Linked DNA regions of Homo sapiens: region 2 is linked to region 1. The links come from fine-mapping of genetic effects on gene expression. A gene starts in region 1. The other region holds a variant in brackets. All regions are shown on one strand. Distances are from middle to middle.

Evidence for each region.
Region 2: its variant is fine-mapped to the expression of CGAS in monocytes after interferon gamma (Fairfax 2014, PIP 0.95). The same link has a PIP of 0.9 or more in monocytes after LPS.

What each region holds. Positions count from the first base shown.
Region 1 is chr6:73,448,991-73,458,117 of GRCh38, forward strand. It overlaps CGAS (cyclic GMP-AMP synthase), which reads right to left and starts at 3,307. Exons shown (of 5, transcript NM_138441.3): 1 at 2,535-3,307. The coding sequence starts at 3,191. RefSeq lists a silencer at 2,729-2,938 and an enhancer at 3,109-3,588.
Region 2 is chr6:73,418,543-73,430,083 of GRCh38, forward strand. It overlaps CGAS (cyclic GMP-AMP synthase), which reads right to left. Exons shown (of 5, transcript NM_138441.3): 4 at 10,167-10,269; 5 at 5,169-7,036. The coding sequence ends at 6,685. Among named protein-coding and RNA genes, the nearest start is that of CGAS, 28 kb to the right of the region's middle. RefSeq lists a silencer at 3,044-3,338. The variant C/T (reference allele first, on the strand shown) is at 6,751.

The DNA.
Region 1 (9,127 bases):
AGGCAGGAGACTCACTTGAACCCGGGAGGCGGAGGTTACAGTGAGCCAAGATCACATCACTGCACTCCACCCTGGGTGACAGAGCAAGACTCCATCCCCAAAAAAAAAGAAAAAAGAAAAAGAAAAAAAGAAAAAGTTTTAGATAAAACAAATTTCACTGGATTTCTTTTCATTGGCATAATTTTTAAAAACAAAGTGGTTCTGGGCTGGGCATGGTGGCTCCCACCTGTAATCCCAGCACTTTGGGAGGCCAAGGCGGGAAGATCATGAGGTCAGGAGATAGAGACCAGCCTGGCTAACACGGTGAAACCCCGTCTCTACTAAAAATACAAAAATTAGCTGGGCATGGTGGCGGGCGCCTGTAGTCCCAGCTACTTGGGAGGCTGAGGCAGGAGAATGGTGTGAACCCAGTAGGCAGGGCTTGCAGTGAGCCGAGATCGCGCCACTGCACTCCAGCCTGGGTGACAGAGTGAGACTCTGTCTCAAACACACACACACACACACACACACACACACACAAAGTGGTTCTGAATGGAGACTGTCTTCTGAATGTCTTGTTCTCTAATTCTAACTAGTAACTTTCTTTTTCCTTTGGACCCGCCATATACAGTAATTGAACTGAATTGATACTTACATAATAAGAATCATGCTCAATCAGAGACATATCTGATGCTGAAAAGTAAATTAGTTAATTAAAAAGAATCATGCTCAAGACACAGTCTGGGCTGGGTGCCGTGGCTCAAGCCTGTAATCCCAGCACTTAGGGAGGCCGAGGCAGGTGGATCATCTGAGGTCAGAGTTCGAGACCAGCCTGGCCAACATGGTGAAACCCCGTCTCTACTAAAAATACATAAATTAGCCGGGAGTGGGGGCAGGCACCTGTAATCCCTGCTATTTGGAAGGCTGAAGCAGGAGAATCGCTTGAACCTGGAAGCCGGAGGTTGCAGCGAAACCTAGATGGCACCACTGCACTACAGCCTGGGCAACAAGAGTGAAACTCCATCAAAAAAAGAAGAAAGAAGAAAGAAAAGAAAGAAAGAACAAAATAAAGAGAGAGAGAGAGAGAGGAAGAGAGGGAGGGAGGAAAAGAGAGAGACAGAGAGATAGAGAGAAGAGAAGAGAAGAGAAAAAAGAAGAGAAAAGAAGCCGGGTGTGGTGGCTCACGCCTGTAATCCCAGCACTTTGGGAGGCTGAGGCTGGCAGATCACCTGAGGTCGGGAGTTCTAGACCAGCCTGACCAACATGGAGAAAGCCCGTCTCTACTAAAAATACAAAATTAGCCAGGGTGGAGGCTCATGCTTGTAATCCCATCTACTCAGGAGGCTGAGACAGGAGAATCGCTTGAACCTGGGAGGTGGAGGTTGAGGTGAGCTGAGATCGCGCCATTGCACTCCAGCCTGGGTAACAAGAGCGAAACTCCGTCTCAAAAAAAAAAAAAAGAAAGAAAGAAAGAAAAAGAAAAAGAAACAAATCTCTTGCTGGGCAAGAAACACGCTCCAGTCAGGAACCTGCTTCTAAACTTTCAATTTACACAGGAATGATTAATGACTCAATCACCCACAAGCAAATGGAGCTGTGTAATACACACGTCGAAGCAATTATACGGAATGTGTATCTAGAAAGCGTTTTAGTATCTGTAGGAGATATTCTTATTTGTTTGTTTAACATTATACTGTAAGCTTCCCATGATTTCTGTGTAAGAAACTGGGGACAGACGGCCGGGCGCGGTAGCTCACGCCTGTAATCCCAGCACTTTGAGAGGCCGAGACGAGCGAATCAAGAGGTCAGGAGATCGAGACCATCCTGGCTAACACGGTGAAACACCGTCTCTACTAAAAATACAAAAAAAATTAGCCGGGCATGGTGGCGGGCGCCTGTAGTCCCAGCTACTCGGGAAGCTGAGGCAGGAGAATGGCGTGAACCCGGGAGGCGGAGCTTGCAGTGAGCCGAGATAGCGCCACTGCACTCCAGCCTGGGGGACGCAGCGAGACTCCGCCTCAAAAAAAAAAAAAAAGAAAAGAAAAGAAAAAAGAAAAAAAAGAAATTGGGGTCAGACGGGATAGCAGGAGAGGGGGCAGGGAGGAAGAGGGGGAGAGAAACTGAAGATCTTTTTTTCTATGGAGTAAGAGGTCTTCCTCATAGGAAAAAGTCTACGTGGAATTTTTAACAGACCACTTCAAATTATCCAAGTCAATATCTGACTCGGGACCTCAGGTCCACACCATCAAACACTGCCCTGTTACGGAAACTCGATACATGTCGGCTTGCATGAATGAACCCATACATTTGAATTCCCCCGGGAGCAGTGTCTTGAAATTAGCCAGCAATCAGTACCGGTTGGTTGTCTGATCGTTGGATGTGTAGATGAATAAACGAACGGTTTGTCGTTTTACTTAGACTAGGCTACCGAAAAACATGCAAAAGTCTAAGTTACTTCCGAAGGGAAGTGAGGGGCGCGACCCGGGGAAGGTAGGGACTGCGGATTGCGGAAGGCCGAGCAGCGGGGCTCGGCGGGAGGGCGCCAAGCAGCTCACCTTCACGTGCTCATAGTAGCTCCCGGTGTTCAGCAGCCCGACGCCTCTGAACGCGGAGTCGCACTTCAGTCTGAGCAGCAGGTGGTCCACAACCCCTTTCACCATCCCCGCCGCCGTGGAGATATCATCGCGGCTGAGCTTCAACTTCTCCAAAACCGCCCGGAGCTTCGAGGCCCCAGGCGCCGCATCCCTCCGTACGAGAATGGGGGCCGAGACCGGCAGGCCGGGGCTGGGCACGTCCCAGGGCCCGGGCGGAGGTCTTGGCTTCGTGGAGCAGCGCGCGCCCCTCTGGCGGCAAGAACCAGCCCTGGAAAGAGCCGGCTCCCGAGCCGCAGGAGGCTCCAGCCCCTCTGCCCCAGGGGCGCTGGTGGCGTCAGACGGCTGCGTGTCCTGGGCGCGCTGAGGGGCCTTTTTGGCGCGGGCCCCAGTTGCGCGGACGGGCGGCCTCTCCTGGGTGTCCGGGGCGCTCTTTTTCTGCCGGGATCCCGACTTCCTGGCGGGGCCGAACTTTCCCGCCTTAGGCAGGGCGGCCTCGGGGGCAGCCGGAGACTCGGTGGGATCCATCGGGGCGCCCCTGGCATTCCGTGCGGAAGCCTTGGGGGCAGTGGCTCCGGCCTCGGAAGCTCTCTGCATGGCCTTTCCGTGCCAAGGCTGCATGGCTGGCGCTTTCTGTTCCCCGAAAGAAGAATCCGTTTCAGGAAAAGGCCGCAAGAGGAAGAGCCAGCAGCAGCTGTTGGAAACCAAGCACTACTGGCGGGCACACAAGAGTCTGCGACCCGAAGGGGAACCCCAGGCTGGGAAGTCGCTGGGAGCCACGCCCATGCCGCGAAGAGGCTGGCCGCGGCCTTTCCTGAGGCTACAAAAGTCTCGAAGTTTCTAACTCTCCAGGCAATCCGTGCCCCTGTCTTAAGAAGATGAGGTAGGGCCGGGCGCGGTGGCTCACGCCTGTAACCTCAGCATCCGAGAGGCCGAGGCAGGCGGGTCGCTTGAGCTCAGGAGTTTGAGACCAGCCTGGGCAACCCAGCAAGACCTGGTCTTTCTTATAATTAAATATATGTGTGTGTGTGTGTTGCCTGGGCACACTGACTCACGCCTGTAATCCCAGCAATCTGGGAGACCGAGGTGGGCGGATCACCTGAGGTCAGGAGTTCAAGACCAGCCTGGCCAACAAGGCGAAAGAAACCCCGTCTCTACTAAAAAATACAAATATTAGCTAGGCGTGGTGGCGGGCACCTGTAATCCCAGCTACTCGGGAGGCTGAGGCTGGAGAATCACTTGAACCCGGGAGGCGGAGGTTGCAGTGAGCTGAGACGTGCCACTTCACTCCAGCCTGGGCGACAGAGCGAGACTCTGTCTCAAAAAAGAAAAAGAGGCCAGGCGTGGTGGCTCACGCCTGTAATCTCAGCAGTTTGGGAGGCCGAGGCGGGCGGATCACGAGGCCAAGACATCGAGACCTTCCTGGCCAACATGGTGAAACCCCGTCTCTACTAAAAATACAAAAAATTAGCCGGGCTTGGTGGCGCCTGTAGTCCCATCTACTCGGGAGGCCGAGACAGAGAACTGCTTGAACCCGGGAGGCAGAGGTTGCAGTGAGCCGAGATCGCGCCACTGCACTCCAGCCTGGGCAACAGAAAAAGAGTCCATCACAAAACAAAACAAAACAAAACAAAAACATTGACAGAGAAACTTTTCTCTTTCAAGTGAAAGTTTTTTTAAATTTAATTTTGGTTTGAGTTAGGGGGGCGCAATCTCGGCTCACTGCAACCTCAGCCACCAGGGCTCAAGCGATCCTCCCACCTCAGCATCCTGAGTAGCTGTTACTACAGGTGCGGACACCATGCCCAGCTTTTTCTTTTCTTTTTAATTTTTTTGTATACATGGGGAGGTCTCACTATGTTGCCCAGGCTGGTCTCGAACTCCTAGACTCAAGCGATTCTCCCTCCTCAACCTCCCAAAGTGTTGGGATTGTAGGCATGAGCCACTGTGCCCTGCCACAGAAACTTTTTCTTTTCTTTTTTTTCTTTTTCTTTTCTTTCTTTCTTTCTTTTTTTTTTTTTTTTTTTTTGAGACAGAATTTCGCTCTTGTCACCCAGGCCGAAGTGCAATGGTGCGATCTTGGCTCACTGCAACCTCTGCCTCCTGGGTTCAAGCAATTCTCCTACCTCAGCCTCCCGGGTAGCTGGGATTACAGACGCCCGCCACCACGCCCGGCTAATTTTTCGTATTTTTAGTAGAGACGGGGTTTCGCTATGTTGGCCAGGCTGCTCTCAAACTGCTGACCTCAAGTGATCCACCCGCCTCGGCCTCCCAAAGTGCTGCGATTACAGGCGTGAGCCACGGCGCCTGGCCAGAAACTTTTCCCTTTTTTTTTTTTTTTTTCCTGAGATGGAGTCTCATTCTGTCCCCTAGGCTGGAGTGCAGTGGCACGATCTCGGCTCACTGTAACCTCTGCCTCCCGGATTCAAGCGATTCTCCTGCCTCAGCCTCCGAAGTAGCTGGGACTACAGGTGTGCGCCGCCATGCCCGGCTAATTTTTGTATTTTTAGTAGAAAGGAGTTTCACCATATTGGCCAGGCTGGTCTGGGACTCCTTATCTCGTGATCCACCTGCCTCGGCCTCCCAAACTGTTGGGATTACGGGCATGAGCCTCAGCGCCCGGCCAACTTTTTCAATGTAAATTTAAATAGGGTTTTTTAAAAATCAATAAGAAATAAAATAATAATTTTTAAAAAGAAAAAAATTAATAACAAATGAAAAATACTTTGAAAAAAGAAAAAAATAAGAAAGAGAAAATATTCAACTTTTACAAGATGGAATGAAACAAAGATTGACTGCAATTGGAGTAAATACTTCTATTTGACATTTTTTAAAAAGCACAGAAAATCTTTAAAATGTTGTGTAAAGTTTCTGCCTGGTGCGGTGACTCACGCCTATAATCCCGGCACTTTGGAAGGCGAAGGTGGGTGGATCACTTGAGGTCAGGAGTTCAAGACCAGCCTGTCCAGCATGGTGAAAACCCATCTCTACTAAAAATACAAAAATTAGCCAGGTGTGGTGGGCCATGCTTGTAAACCCAGCTACTGGGGAGGCTGAGACGGGAGAATTGCTTGAATCGGGAAAGCGGAGGTGGTAATGAGCTGAGATCAGACCACTGCACTCCATCCTGGGCGACAGGGCAAATGACTCTGTCTCAGGGGGAAAAAAAGTTGTGTAAAGTTCTCTCTTTTTATTTTATTTTATTTTATTCATTTTTGAGACGGAGTTTTGCTCTTGTTGCCCAGGCTGGAGTGCAATGGTACAATCTCAGCTCACCACACCCTCCGCCTCCCGGGTTCAAGAGATTCTCGTGACTCAGCCTCTTGCGCAGCTGGGACTACAGGCGTGCCCCACCATGCCCAGCTAATTTTTGTATGGTTTTGTAGAAATGTGGTTTCACCATGTTGCCCAGGCTGGTCCCCAACAAGCTATCTGCCCGCCTCAGCCTCCCAAAGTGCTGTTACTGGCATGAGCCACTGCACCGGACCTGGCATTTACATTTTAAATCATTCATACTGCTTCAGCTGTTGTGATTCTAGAGTATCTCAATACAGGCTTTCAAATATCTTTTTTTTTTTTTCGAGATGGAGTTTCACTTTTGTTGTCCAGGCTGGAGTGCAATGGTGCTATCTCGGCTCTCTGTAACCTCCGCCTCCTGGGTTCAAGCGATTCTCCTGCCTCAACCTCCTGAGTAGCTGGGATTATAGGCGCCTGCCACCACACCCAGCTAATTTTTTTACCTTTTTAGTAGAGACGGGGTTTCACCATGTTGACCAGGCTGGTCTCGAACTCCTGACCTCAGGTGATCTGCCCCCTTTGGCCTCCCAAAGTGTTGGGATTACAGGCGTGAGCCACCTTGCCTGGCCTTCAAGTATCTATTTCTAAAGCCCCTGATAGAAATGCATATTAGAGGTCAGGCGCAGTGGCTCATGCCTATAATCCCAGCACTTCAGGAGCCCTAGATCTTCTGAGATCAGGAGTTCAAGACCAGCCTGGCCTACATGATGAAACTTTGTCTCTACTAAAAATACAAAAAATTAGCCGGGTGTGATGGCACATGTCTGTGATCCCAGTTACTCGGGAGGCTGAGGCAGGAGAATAGCTTGAACCCAGGAGGCAGAGGTTGCAGTGAGTGAGATCCTGCCACTGCACTCCAGCCTGGGCAACAGAATGAGACTCTGTCTAAAAAAAAAAAATAATAATAATAAAAGAAATGCATATTAGACAAGAACCTCTTGGGTTTAGAAAGCCTTGACTACTTTTTTTTTCTTTGTACTATTTGAACCATTTTTGGGGGGTGTATAATTCAATGATATTAAGTATGTTCACATTCCTATGCAACCATCACTATCATCTGTCTTCAAAACTCTTCATCTTGCAAAACTGAAACTCTGTACCCATAAACAATAACTCATCTTTCTCTCCTCTCTCTAGCCCCTGGCAACCACCATTATACTTTCTGACTGTGATTTTGACTGCTCTAAGTACTTTATGTCAGTGAAATGATGCAACGTTTGTCTTTTTGTTACTGGCTTATCACTCTTAGCCAATGTTCATCTATGTTGCAAGAATTTCCTTCCGTTTTAGGGCTGAATAATATTGCTTTGTATGTATATATCACATTTTGTTTATCCATTCACCTGTCAAAGGACAAAAATGCCTTACTTTTTAAAAAGATTTCCCTGAAACAAGTATTTTTATATATCCTTCTGTTAAGTTCAAAGAGATTTTTACCACCCTGGAGCAATGAGCCGTAGTTTGAATTAGGATGCCAGAAAGGTGTATTTTTCTCTTGTGAAATATATAAGGAGGAGAAATAGAAGGAGGACCATTGCATAGTCAGACTTGTTCCCAAGCCAGCCAATTTCAGGGAAGAGTAAAATGGAAGTTGAAATGTGGAAATCCATTTCCTTGAAACTGCAAGAGCTGTCCAGGTGTGGTGGCTCATGCCTGTAATCCCAGCAGTTTGGCAGATCCACACAGGCAGATCACCTGAGGTCAGGAGTTCAAGACCAGCCTGGCCAACATGGTGAAACCCCATCTCTACTAAAAGCACAAAAATTAGCCAGGTGTGGTGGTGCATGCCTGTAATCCCAGCTACTTGGGAGGCTGAGGCAGGAGAATCGCTTGAACCCAGGAGGCAGAGGTGGCAGTGATCTGAGATCATGCCAATGCACTCCAGCCTAGACGACAGAGTGAGACTCTGTCGCCAAAAAAAAAAAAAAAAGAAAAAAGAAAAAAAAAAGAAACTACAAGTGCATCTGGATAGTCTTCCAGGATGTTCAGGGGTAACTACCACATTCTGAGGGCCTCTGCTCTATGGTTCTGTTTGTTTTCTCCAAGGACTTCAGCTGCTTGTCATGAAATCCTGTAAATGACTCTACAGTTAGTTTAGTGCTCTCTTCCGGGCTGGGTGCAGTGGCTCACTCCTGTAATCCCAGCACTTTGGGAGGCTGAGGCGGGCAGATCTCAAGGTCAGGAGTTCGAGACCAGCCTGGGCGAGATGGTGAAACCTGTCTCTACTAAAAATACAAAAATTAGATGGGCGTGGTGGTGGGCCCCTGTAATCCCAGCTACTCCGGAGGCTGAGGCAGGAGGATTGATTGAACCTGGGAGGTGGAGGTTGCAGTGAGCCAAGATGGCGCCATTGCACTCCAGCCTGGGCAACAGAGCAAGACTCCATCTCAAAAAAAAAATACATAAAAATAAATGCTCTCAGCCGGGCGCGGTGGCTCACGCCTGTAATCCCAGCACTTTGGGAGGCTAAGGTGGGTGGATCACCTGAGGTCGGGAGTTTGAGACCAGCCTGACCAATATGGTCTCTACTAAAAATACAAAAATTAGCCTTGCGTGGTGGCCGGCACCCATAGTCCCAGCTACATGGGAGGCTGAGGCAGGAGAATTGCTTGAACCTGGGAGGCGGAGGTTGCAGTGAGCCGAGATCACGCCACTGCACTCCAGACTGGGAGACAGAGCGAGACTCCGTCTCAAAAAAAAAAAAATAATAAAATAAAATAAATGCTCTCTTCCATCAGTTTCTAAAGTCCCCTTAAGTCACTGGTGGTTTCTTTAACCAGAAGCTGCAAGCAACAATCCACTGGGCCAGATCAAATATCTCTACTATTGGCCTACCAAAGGAGGAGAACTCATTCTTTATTCAACCTTTCTGCAGCAATCAGTGTCCAAATCACAGAGAAAATGACTGTTTAGTTGAGTCTTGATGTGGAACTTGGATTTTATCTAGTAGGAAACCCCAGGAAATTTATTTGTGGGTATATATTTTATCTAGTTGACTTTACCACTTCTTTTTTTTTTTTTTTTCTGAGACAGCATCTCACTCTGCCACCCAAGCTGGAGTGCAGCAGTGCAATGTCAGCTCATTGCAGCAATTCGTACCTCAGCCTCCCAAGTAGCTGGGATTACAGGCACACGCCACCACCCTGGCTAATTTTTGTATTTTTAGTAGAGATGAGGTTTCACCATGCTGTCCAGGCTGGTCTTGAACTCCTGGCTTCAAGTGATATGCCCACACTGGCTTCCCAAAATGCTGGGATTAC
Region 2 (11,541 bases), 29 kb before region 1:
TAAAAAATAAGTCACAAGGACTTGCAGTAGGAATTTGGTCACAAAAAATGAAAGTAAAGATGAGCAGCTGGGTGCGGTGACTCACATCTGTAATCCTAACACTTTGGGGGGCCGAGGTGGGTGGATCATTTGAGGTCAGGAGTTCGAGATTAGCCTGGCCAACATAGTGAAACTCCATCTCTACTAAAAATATAAAAATTACCCAGGGGTGGTGGGGCATGCCTGTAATCCCAGCTACTCAGGAGGCTGAGGCAGGAGAATCACTTAAGCCTGGGAGGCAGAGGTTGCGGTGAGCCGAGATCACGCTACTGCACTCCAGTCTGGGTGACAGAGTGAGACCCTGTCTCAAAAAAAAAAAAAAAGTAAGGTTAAGCAAGGATGAGCAATTAGCTTACAAGAAATAAAGTGAGGGTAAGCAAGTGAGGAAAAGAAAAGGCCATGAAATGTAACAAACCAGGCTGATCTCATCTCACAGAAGTCAGTCAGCTCTCCCCTTTGTGAGAGTGCTTAATAAGCTTTTGCTGCTTTGCTTTATTTACTATCTGTGTGTGTCTCATCCAAGTCTTTGTTCAAGACACCAAGTGCCAGGCCAGGCACGGTGGCTCACGTCTGTAATCCCAGCACTTTGGGAGACCGAGGCAGGCAGAACACTGGAGGTCAGGAGTTCGAGACCAGCCTGCCCAACGTGGTGAAACCCCGTCTCTACTAAAAATATGAAAATTAGCCAGGCATGGTGGCGCAGGCCTGCAGTCCCAATCAGGAGGCTGAGGCAGGAGAACCACTGGATGCCAGGAGGCAGAGGTTGCAGTGAGCTGTGATCGGGCCACTGCACTCCAGCCTAGGTGACAGAGTGAGACTCCGTCTCAAAAATGAACAAACAAAACAAGACACCAGGAGCCTGGAATTGCGTGGCACTACCCAGTAATAAAATGTTAGATTAATAATGCTATTTCTCTGTATTTTCACTGTTTGTTTTTTTTTACACTTTAACGTGAACATCTGACTTTTTCACATTGAACACATATTACTTTTTTTTTGAGACAGAGTTTCACTCTTGTTGCCCAGGCTGGAGTGCAATGGCACAATCTCAGTTCACCCACAACCTCCGCCTCCCAGGTTCAAGCGACTCTCCTGCCTCAGCCTCCCAAGTAGCTGGGATTACAGGCATCCACCCTCATGCCTGGCAAAATGAAAAAGATTTAAAAGTAATATGTGTTCAGGCCACCGCGCCCGGCAAAATGAAAAAATTTAAAAATAATATGTGTTCAGGCCGTGCACAGTGGCTCACGCCTGTAATACCAGCACTTTGGGAGGACGAGGCGGGCGCATCACCAGAGGTCAGGAGTTCGAGCCCAGCCTGACCAACACGGAGAAACCCGGTCTCTACTAAAAATACAAAATTAGCCAGATGTGGTGGCGGGCGCTTATAATCCCAGCTACTCGGGAGGCTGAGGCAGGAGAATCGCTTGAACCCGGGAGGTGGAGTTTGCAGTGAGCCAAGATTAGGTCATCGCACTCCAGCCTGGGCAACAAGAGGGAAATTCTGTCTCAAAAAAAAAAATTGTTTTCATTTTTATCAAAGTCAAATATACATGTAATGTATGGAAGCAAATGGTTCTACAAGACTTATTTATTTTTGTTTTTATTTTTTATTTACATTTCTCTGCCAGAAATCTTGGACTTACAAAGCTTATTTAAAAAGTAGTCTGTTGTCAGAAAAGATGGTAGCCTAGTCTTGGTATTCCTGTGGAGAACTTAGAAAACCTGAAGAGTACTTGTACCCAAATTGGATTGTGTTTTAATGGACAATGGCTATATTTTCCCCATGTCAAAAGAATACCAATGAAAGCAGCTGTTTTTCAAGTTCCTAGGGGTCCAGTTGTCCAGAATCCCCAAGGATAAGATGCTCCCTATAAGAGCAGAACCTTAACCTCACTCAGTGACATCGTAGGAACCTCTAGCTGTGGAATTTCTTAGGAACTCAAACTTTCAAAAGCATCCAGAGAGTCAAAGCTGGGGGAAAAAAAGCACATAAAAATAACAAAATTTTTAGGCCAGGCGCAGTGGCTCACGCCTTAATCTCAGCACTTTGGAAGGCCAAAGCAGGTGGATCATGAGGTCAAGCATTCAAGACCAGCCTGGCCAACATAGTGAAACCCTGTCTCTACTAAAAATACAAAAAATTAGGTGGGCGTGGTGGTGGGTGCCTGTAATCCCAGCTACTTGGGAGGCTAAGGCAGGAGAATCGCTTGAACTCGGGAGGCGGAGGTTGCAGTGAGCCAAGATCGCGCCACTGCACTCCAGCCTGGGTGACAGAGCAAGACTCCGTCTCAAAAAAATAAATAAATAAATAACAACAATAATAAAATTTTTTATTATTTTTAATTTAATTAATTTATTTAGAGATGGAATTTCGCTCTTGTTGCCCAGGCTGGACTGCAATGGCACAATCTCGGCTCACTGCAACCTCTGCCTCCCAGGTTCAAGCAATTCTTCTGCCTCAGCCTTCCTGAGTAGCTGGGATTACAGGCATGCGCCACCACACCCGGCCAATTTTGTATTTTTAGTAGAGACGGGGTTTCTCCATGTTGATCAGGCTGGTCTTGAACTCCTGACCTCAGGTGATCCGCCCGCCTCGTCCTCCCAAAGTGCTGGGATTACAGGCATGAGCCATGGCACCCAGCCATAAAATTTATTTTTTATATTCTACTAATAAATGCTGTTGTACTTGGGCATGATCAATCATATAACTGTCATTTTTTGGTTTTATGCTGTTTTGGTTTGGTTTTTGCCAACTATATTCACATTTACAAACTAACTAAATAAAATCATTTTATTTAAAAAAAAAAGTAGTCCCGAACCCTTCCACCCTTCATTTTCCACTCCCAAGATGTAACCTTTTCATCTTTTAGCCATTAATAACTTGCTTATACTGCAATTTCTTGGTTTTAAAAATTTGACATTTACTGACTTCCCACTATAAGGAAGATTAATTCAGTTTTTGCATACCTGTGACAGTCGGACCCTCAGGGTTGTCCTGTGGCCCCCCACCTCCTGAGGTTCATATCTATGTAGTAAGGAATTTAACCTAACCCAAAGAAAAGTCTCACCTTTGCCCTTGGCTTCTGAAAGGTAATGGCTGAATTCTTGGAATGTGCCAGAAAGTATAACAATGTGATTTATGGTGGGGTCTTTGGGTCATGGTATCAGCTTATACTGTTTGCCTTCCAGAGGAGCTGGAGACTGAGGTTAGACATATGTCCAGCCAACCATGAGCTGCAGTAAGAACTCTGGACATGGCTCAGGTGAGCTTCCCTGGCTGGCAATATTCTGCGTGTATTGGCACACATTGATGCCAAGAGAATAACATGTCCATGACTCCACCAAAAGACAACAGAAAGTGCTGTGTTTGCTACTCTCTTAAACTCTGCCTTACGCACTTCTTCCTTTGGCTGATTTAAACTTGCATGCTTACTATATAATAAACTGCAACCATGAGCATAGTGGTTTTAGTGAGTTCTGTGAGTCTTTCATCAAACCTCAGGGTGGTTTTAGGAATCCCTTGAAATTGCAATTGTTGACAGAAATGAGGGTGGTCTTATGGGAACTGTTTTCCCCCTAACTGTATCGCTGGCATCTGAGACAACAAGAACACCCTTGAGTGATTCCTCTCCTCTTGGGTATGAGAGGGACCTTTGACTTGCTTCCAATCAATAGAATACAGTACAGGCAACGGACTGTACATAATTATGTGTATGTAATTGTGTTAAACAAGTTTGTAGCACTCCTCTTGCTGGAGTACCTCCCTTGCTGGCTTTGAAGAATCGAGCTACTGTTGTGGGCTGCCTATGTTGGGAGGCTCACATGGTAAGGAACTGAAGACAGCTTCTAGGAACTGAGGGCAACCTCTGGCTGACAGCAAGAAACTGAAGCCCTCAGTCCTACAAATGTAAAGGAACTAAATTCTGCCAACAAAAATGGTTCCTTCTCCAGTCAAGCCTCAGATGAGGCTACAGCGCTGGCTGACGTCTTAATTATAGCCTTGAGAGACTCTGAGCAGAGCCACACCCAGAATTTTGGCCCACTGAAAATGTGAGATAATAAATATGTGTTGTTTTAAGCCTCTAAGGTTGTGGTTAATTGTTACACAGGAAACTAATGTAATCTCCCTACCACTGTCACCATACAGGAACTAAGCCTATTGTCCTATCCTAACCACAGAGTGGGTAATCATAATTTCTTTCTTTCTTTTCACATTAAAAAAGTTTTTTTTTAATTTTTTTTTTTTTTTTGAGATGGAGTCTCGCTCTGTCACCAGGCTGGAGTGCAGCGGCACTGTCTTGGCTCACTGCAACCTCTGCCTCCTGGGTTCAAGCGATTCTCCTGCCTCAGCCTCCCAAGTAGCTGGGATTACAGGCACGTACCACCATACTCATCTAATTTTTGTATTTTTAGTAGAGATGAGGTTTCACCATGTTGGCCAGGCTGGTCTTGAACTCCTGACCTCATGATCTGCCCGCCTTGGCCTCCCAAAGTGCTGGAATTACAGGGGTGAGCCACCGCCCCTGGTTTTTAATTTTTTTAAAGTCGACAACAGTCCATAACTTCAATAAGATTAATAGTCAATGGTTACATTACTATGACTTTGTCAATACTTAAACAGCTGAGCAATATTCTTATATCAGACTTTTCTTTCATGCATTCATTTTTCTTATGGAGTTAAAAATTGCTTAGATTGGCTGGGCACAGTGCTCACATCTGTAATCTTAGCACTTTGGGAGGCTGAGATGGGTGTATCACCTGAGGTCAGGAGTTTGAGACCAGCTTGACCAACATGGTGAAACTCTGTCTCTACTAAAAATACAAAAATAATTAGCCAGGCATGGTGGCGTGCAACTGTAGTCCCAGCTACTTGGGAGGCTGAGGCAGGAGAATTGCTTGAACCGGGAGGAGGAGGGTGCAGTGAGCCAAGATCGTGCCACTGCACTCCAGCCTGGGCGACAGAGTGAGACTGTCCCAAAAAAAAAAAAAATTGCTTAGATTATTTTATTTGCATAGTGGTTTATTTATCATTAATTGTCCCCAAAACTCTTCAAATGTCTAATGTTTCTCTTAGTATGTTCAAACATAGTAGGCTGTTAAACAAGATGTATAAAGCAAAAACCATAAAAAATTCAACTCCAATTTATTCTCAAAAGCTTGAATGAGAAAAGAAATCAACTCCATTAAAATTTAAAAATCTTTACAATAAACAAAACAATACAAAACAAAAAAACCTTGTTTACTAAAAGACACCAAAAAATGTGCAGACAACCCATATGGCAGAAGTTATTTGTTACACAGACAACGAATGAAAGATAAATACCCCAAATATATTAAGAACTTCCCAAAACAATGAGAAGAAAACTAACCCATAAGAAAATGTGCAAAATATATGAACAGGAAATATTTAACAAACAGCAGTTGCCTCTAGGCTGAATGCTACCTAAAATAAAAAAAGTGTTACTGAAAGTAAAAATAAATAGATAACAGAAAATAAGTTAGGTTTTACATTTAGTCACGTATATTAAAATAAAGTATCTTATGTTTTCTTTTAAGATTATGTATTTCAGCCAGGCGTGGTGGCTCACACCTGTAATCCCAGCACTTTGGGAGGCCAAGGCGGGCGGATCACAAGGTAAGGAGATCGAGACCATCCTGGCTAACATGGTGAAACCCCATCTTTACTAAAAATACAAAAAATTAGCCGGATGTGGTGGCGGGCACCTGTAGTCCCAGCTACTCGGAAGGCTGAGGCAGGAGAATGGCATGAACCCAGGAAGCAGAGCTTGCAGTGAGCCAAGATCATGCCACTGGACTCCAGCCTGGGCGACAGAGCGAGACTCCATCTAAAAAAAAAAAAAAAAAATTATGTATTTCCTGGCCAGGCACGGCGGAGAGCTGTTTTTCAGTAAGAACTTGATGAATTTAATTAAGGCAATATGTACTTTATCTTTTTTTATTCCAACCTAAAAATGTCATTTATTTATTTATTTGCCTGCATGATAAAGCAAACATGGTAATGTTTTTAGATTTCAAATACTACTTTTGCTTCTTATTCCTTGACTAATCTTTTTCCTAGGATAGTCAATCCTTTATACTGATTAGAGTTTATTACAACAAACTGAAAACTGAATAATTATTTACATTCATTTTAGTCAATTATTGCTGTGACAAATTTCAAACATTCCAATTATTACAGTCACTAATTTTTGTTATTTTGTTGCTTTTCTAAAAAATTATTTTAATAATTTCCTAATTTATTTTTCTTATTTATTTATTTATTTTTTGAGAGGAAGTCTTGCTCTGTCACCCAGGATGGAGTGCAGTGGTGCCATCTTGACTCACTGCAACCTCCACCTCCTGGGTTCAAGTGATTCTCATGTCTAAGCCTCCCGAGTAGCTGGGATTACAGGCATGCATCACCATGCCCGGCTAATTTTTATATTTTTAGTAGAGATGGAGTTTCACCATGTTGGTCAGGCTGGTCTCAAACTCCTGACCTCAAGTGATCCGCCTGCCTCGGCCTCCAAAGAGCTGGGATTACAGGTGTGAGCCACAGCGTCTGGCCCCTTTTCAAATTTTTCTTGTATTCTCCAGGATTTAGGGTGACTCTAGTTCTTAGATCTTTCTAAAAATACAATCTCAAAATTCATCAAAAACTGGAAACTCATTGTTTCTTTCATATTCAATTTGCTTTGTCAGAAATTC[C/T]TTACTTCTTTTGTCAATTAAGTTGCTAGAGAATAGATTGAATTCAGGAATAAAATAATTCTCAAGTTTTTCTGTCCTGAGGCACTGAAGAAAGTATGTCACGCAGTTATCAAAGCAGAGGCCCAGGTCTTTGCGGTCCCACTGACTGTCTTGAGGGTTCTGGGTACATACGTGAAAGAAGGCAGTTTTCACATGATAAGAAGAGAATTTATCCAGATGTTTTTTGTCTTTAAACCTTTCTTTCAGCTGTTCTAAAAGGTATTTCATTAGTTTTAAACAATCTTTCCTGTTGAATAAAAAAGGAAAACACTTATTTTTACTTATTTACATTCAACAAAGGATTTTAGGCATCTCATAGCAAAAATATAAACAATAAAGATATATAATAACATAAATATAGGCCGGGCGTGGTGACACAACGCCTGTAATCCCAGCACTTTGGGAGGCTGAGGCAGGGGGATCACCTAAGATCAAGAGTTTGAGTCCAGCCTGACTAATATGGTGAAACCCCGTCTCTACTAAAAATACAAAATTAGCTGGGCGTGGTGGCGCACGCCTGTAATCCCAGCTACTCTGCAGGCTGAGGCACGAGAATCGCTTGAAGCCAGGAGGCGGAGGTTGCAGTGAGCCAAGATCGCGTCATTGCACTCCAGCCTGGGCAACAAGAACGAAACTCTGTCACACACAGAAAACAAAAACAAAAACAAAAAAGCCGGGCGCGGTGGCTCATGCCTGTAATCCCAGCACTTTGGGAGGCCTAGGCAGGCGGATCACGAGGTCAAGAGTTCGAGATCAGCCTGGCCAGTATGCTGAAACCCCATCTCTACTAAAAATACAAAAATTAGCCAGGTGTGGTGGCGTGCACCTATAATCCCAGCTACTCGGGAGGCTGAGGCAGGAGAATCACTTGAACCCAGGAGGCAGAGGTTGCAGTGAGCCAAGATCATGCCACTGCACTCCAGCCTGGGCAACAAGTGAGACTCCATCTCAAAATAAAATAAAATAAAATAAAATAAAATAATAAAATAAAATGAAATAAATGAAATGAAATGAAATGATAAAATAAAATAAAATAAAATAAATACAACAGTCACACTAAAATCTGATTATGTTTTCAAATATATGGTTTGAAGTTTCAAAAACACATTTTTTCCCTCTCTTTCCCATTCTTAGCTTAAATATATTCTATGAATTTCTTCAACTGTATAAAGCTAACAGATATTTATACTATTTTTTTTTTTTTTGAGACAGGGTCTCACTCTGTCACCCAGGCTGGGATGCAGTGATACAATCTCGGCTCACTGCAACCTCTGACCCTCCCCTCACCCCCCTCAAGCGATCCAAAATCTTGTTTTGTTATAAAATTATTTTACTTTATTGAACTGCAAATTTAATATAAATTTTTTCTTTTCTAAAATCCACTGATTGTATCACAGAATTATTTACATTATTAAGAGTACCATAGATAATCTGCCATCTCATCTAGTTATTTAGTAGTTGACAAAATGTACTATTTATGAAACTATTTAGCCTTATCAACAATATTTCTTTTTTTTTTTCTTTTTCCTTTTTTTTTGAGATGGAGTCTCGCTCTGTTGCCCAGGCTGGAGTGCAGTGGTGTGATCTCAGCTCACCGCAACCTCTGCCTACTGGGTTCAAGCGATTCTCCTGCCTCAACCTCCTAAGTAGCTGGGATTACAGGTGCATGCCACCTCGCCCGGCTAATTTTTGCATTTTTGTAGAGACGGGGTTTCATAACGTTGGCCAGGCTGGTCTCGAACTCCTGACCTCAGGTGATCTACCTGCCTCGGCCTCCCAAAGTGCTGGGATTACAGGCGTGAGCCACTGTGCCTGGCCAACAATATAGTTTTCTTAATGCTTACTTCAAAGCCTGCATATGAGATCTTAAAGAACCTCTGTGCCTGCATGTTGGGCATTTTTGTTTTGACTTTTTAACTTTTGTGATCTTTATACTGGCCAACTTACTTTATTTATTTATTTATTTATTTATTTATTTATTTATTTAAGATGGAGTCTTGCTCTGTTGCCCAGGCTGGAGTGCAGTGGCATGATCTCAGCTTATTGCAACCTCTGTCTCCCGGGTTCAGGTGATTCTCTTGCCTCAGCCTCCTGAGTAGCGGGGATTACAGGCACGTGCCACTGCGCCCAGCTAATTTTTGTATTTTTAGTAGAGACGGGGTTTCGCCACGTAGGCCAGGCTGGTCTCGAATTCCTGACCTCAGGTGATCCACCTGCCCTGGCCTCCCAAAGTGCTGGGATTGCAGGCCTTGAGCCACCATGCCTGGCCAATACTGGCCAACTTTAGAAACTCAAATGAACAATTCCTTTTCAATCTTAGTTCTTTATGGTGTGTATGCCATCACAAAAAAAAATGGTGGGGTGCAGTGTCTCATCCCCGTACTTCCAAGACTTTGGGAGGCCAAGGCGGGAAGTTTACTTGAACCCAGGAGTTGGTGACCAGCCTGCCTGGGCAACAAAGGGAGACCACCATCTCTACCAATAAAAAAAATTTTTTTTGAGACAGGGTGTCACTATGTCACCCAGGTTGCAGTGCAGTGGCACGATCATGGCTCACTGCAGCCTTGATTTTCTGGGCTCGAGCCATTCTCCTACCTCAGCCTTCCAAGTAGCTGGGACCACAGGCACCAGTCACCATGCCTGGCTAATTTTTAAATTTTTTATGGAGGTGGGGTCTCACCATGTTGCTAGGCTGGGATTACAGGTGTGAGCCAACAGGCCCTCTACAAAATTTTTTTTTAAATTAGCCGAGCATGGTGGCATGCACCTGTAATCTCAGCTACTTGGGGGGCTGAGGTAGGATGATTGCTTGAGCCCAGGAGATCGAGGCTGTGGTGAGCCGTAATTGTGCCACTGCACTCCAGTCTGGGTGACAGAGTGAAAGTCTGTCTCAAAAAAAAAAATTACTCACTTAGTGTTGTTTTCAGTTTGGCCAATCAATCCCTAGCCGTCAACACAACCCAACTATCCCAAAGCAAGCCCAGTATCTAATAAGAGCGACCTTTTGGCCTCCTCCAATTATATGGCATTAATATCCATTACTTTTAAACAAGCAGAATACTAAGACCCATCGAATTGTCATGGCTAGTGCTCATACCCTCTCACTCTGTCCTACTGATACATCTATACAAAAACACATTCATCTGATCCAGGGTTCAGAACTACTATTCCCCGGCCTTGCCTTCTAACAACACCCTTTCCTTGGCCCTTTGGATCTAGCTTCTCTGGTTTCATACTCACACTCTCCCCAGCTCAACCCAATCCTGCCCTGCCCCCCAGACCCAACCCAGCTCAGCTCTTCAGGTCTGAGGTGTGGAGTCAACAAATAATTAAGCATACCATAGATAATCTGTCATTTAACAAAATAAGGCTGTTACCTGCAACATTTCTCTTCTTTGTTTTCACAGCACGTTTTAGATTTTCCATGATTGTTCAAAATTTCCTTTTCGATGTGAGAGAAGGATAGCCGCCATGTTTCTTCTTAATTTCAAAAAGAAAAACAAAAAAGCACTTTACCCAAAGCATCCATATCTAAACAATATTCAAGTGGTTTCCCTCATGAAAATATCCTGGGGCTGGGCATGGGGGCTCACGCCTGTAATCTCAGTACTTTGGGAGGCCGAGGAGGGTGGGTCACCTGAGGTCGGGAGTTCGAGACCAGCCTGACCAACATGGAGAAACCCATCTCTACCAAAAATACAAAAAAAAGTTATCCTGGCATGGTGGCACATGCCTGTAATCCCAGCTACTCGGGAGGCTGAGGAAGGAGAATCACTTGAACCTGGGAGGTGGAGGTTGCAGTGAGCCGAGATTGCACCATTGCACTCCAGCCTGGGCAACAAGAGCAAAACTCCATCAAAAAAAAAAAAAGAAAGAAAGAAAAAGAAAATATTCTGAAAAAATCTTAGGAGTGAATCAAAAGAAGTGAACAGATAAATAATTATGTATAAAAATAAGTACACTGAGACAAAAAATGGGCCTAACCGAAAAAAAAAGGAAGTCACAGTTTAATATAGTTAGCAATAGTAAGATGTATTACCTTTTATATATTGCTAAATTCCCTTTGTTAAATATTTTGTTTCAATAATAATTTGAATCAATTTATTCACTTTTTCTGTACCATCCTTACAGGTTTTATATTAATACAAAATGAATTGGGGACCATTTCCTTTATTCTTATTTATGAGAGTTTGTGTAAATATAGAATGATTTCACCTGGGCGCGGTGGCTCACGCCTGTAATCCCAGCACCTTGGGAGGCCAAGGTGGGCGGATCACAAGGTCGGGAGATCAAGACCATCCTGGCTAACACAGTGAAACCCTGCCTCTACCAAAAATACAAAAAATTAGCCGGGCGTGGTGGCGGGCGCCTGTAATCCCAGCTACTTGGGAGGCTGAGGCAGGAGAATGGCGCGAACCCGGGAGGTGGAGCTTGCAGTGAGCGGAGATCGCGCCACTGCACTCCAGCCTGGGCAACAGCACAAGACTCTGTCTCAAAAAAAAAAAATTTCTCCCCGAGTCTTACCATGGCTAGCTCTTTTATGCTCTGACCACCCTGTTACTTCGTGGTTTTATACTAGCAAAGTATAAGTAGTTTATAATCTGAATGATTTTTCAGAAAAATCAATCAATATAATCTGTCACATTAACAGAATAGAGGAGAAATACATGATTGTCTCAATAGATGAAGAAAATGAAGCTCTTAAAATCCTATAGTCGTTCATCATTAAAAAAACACCTCTTAGCAATCTAA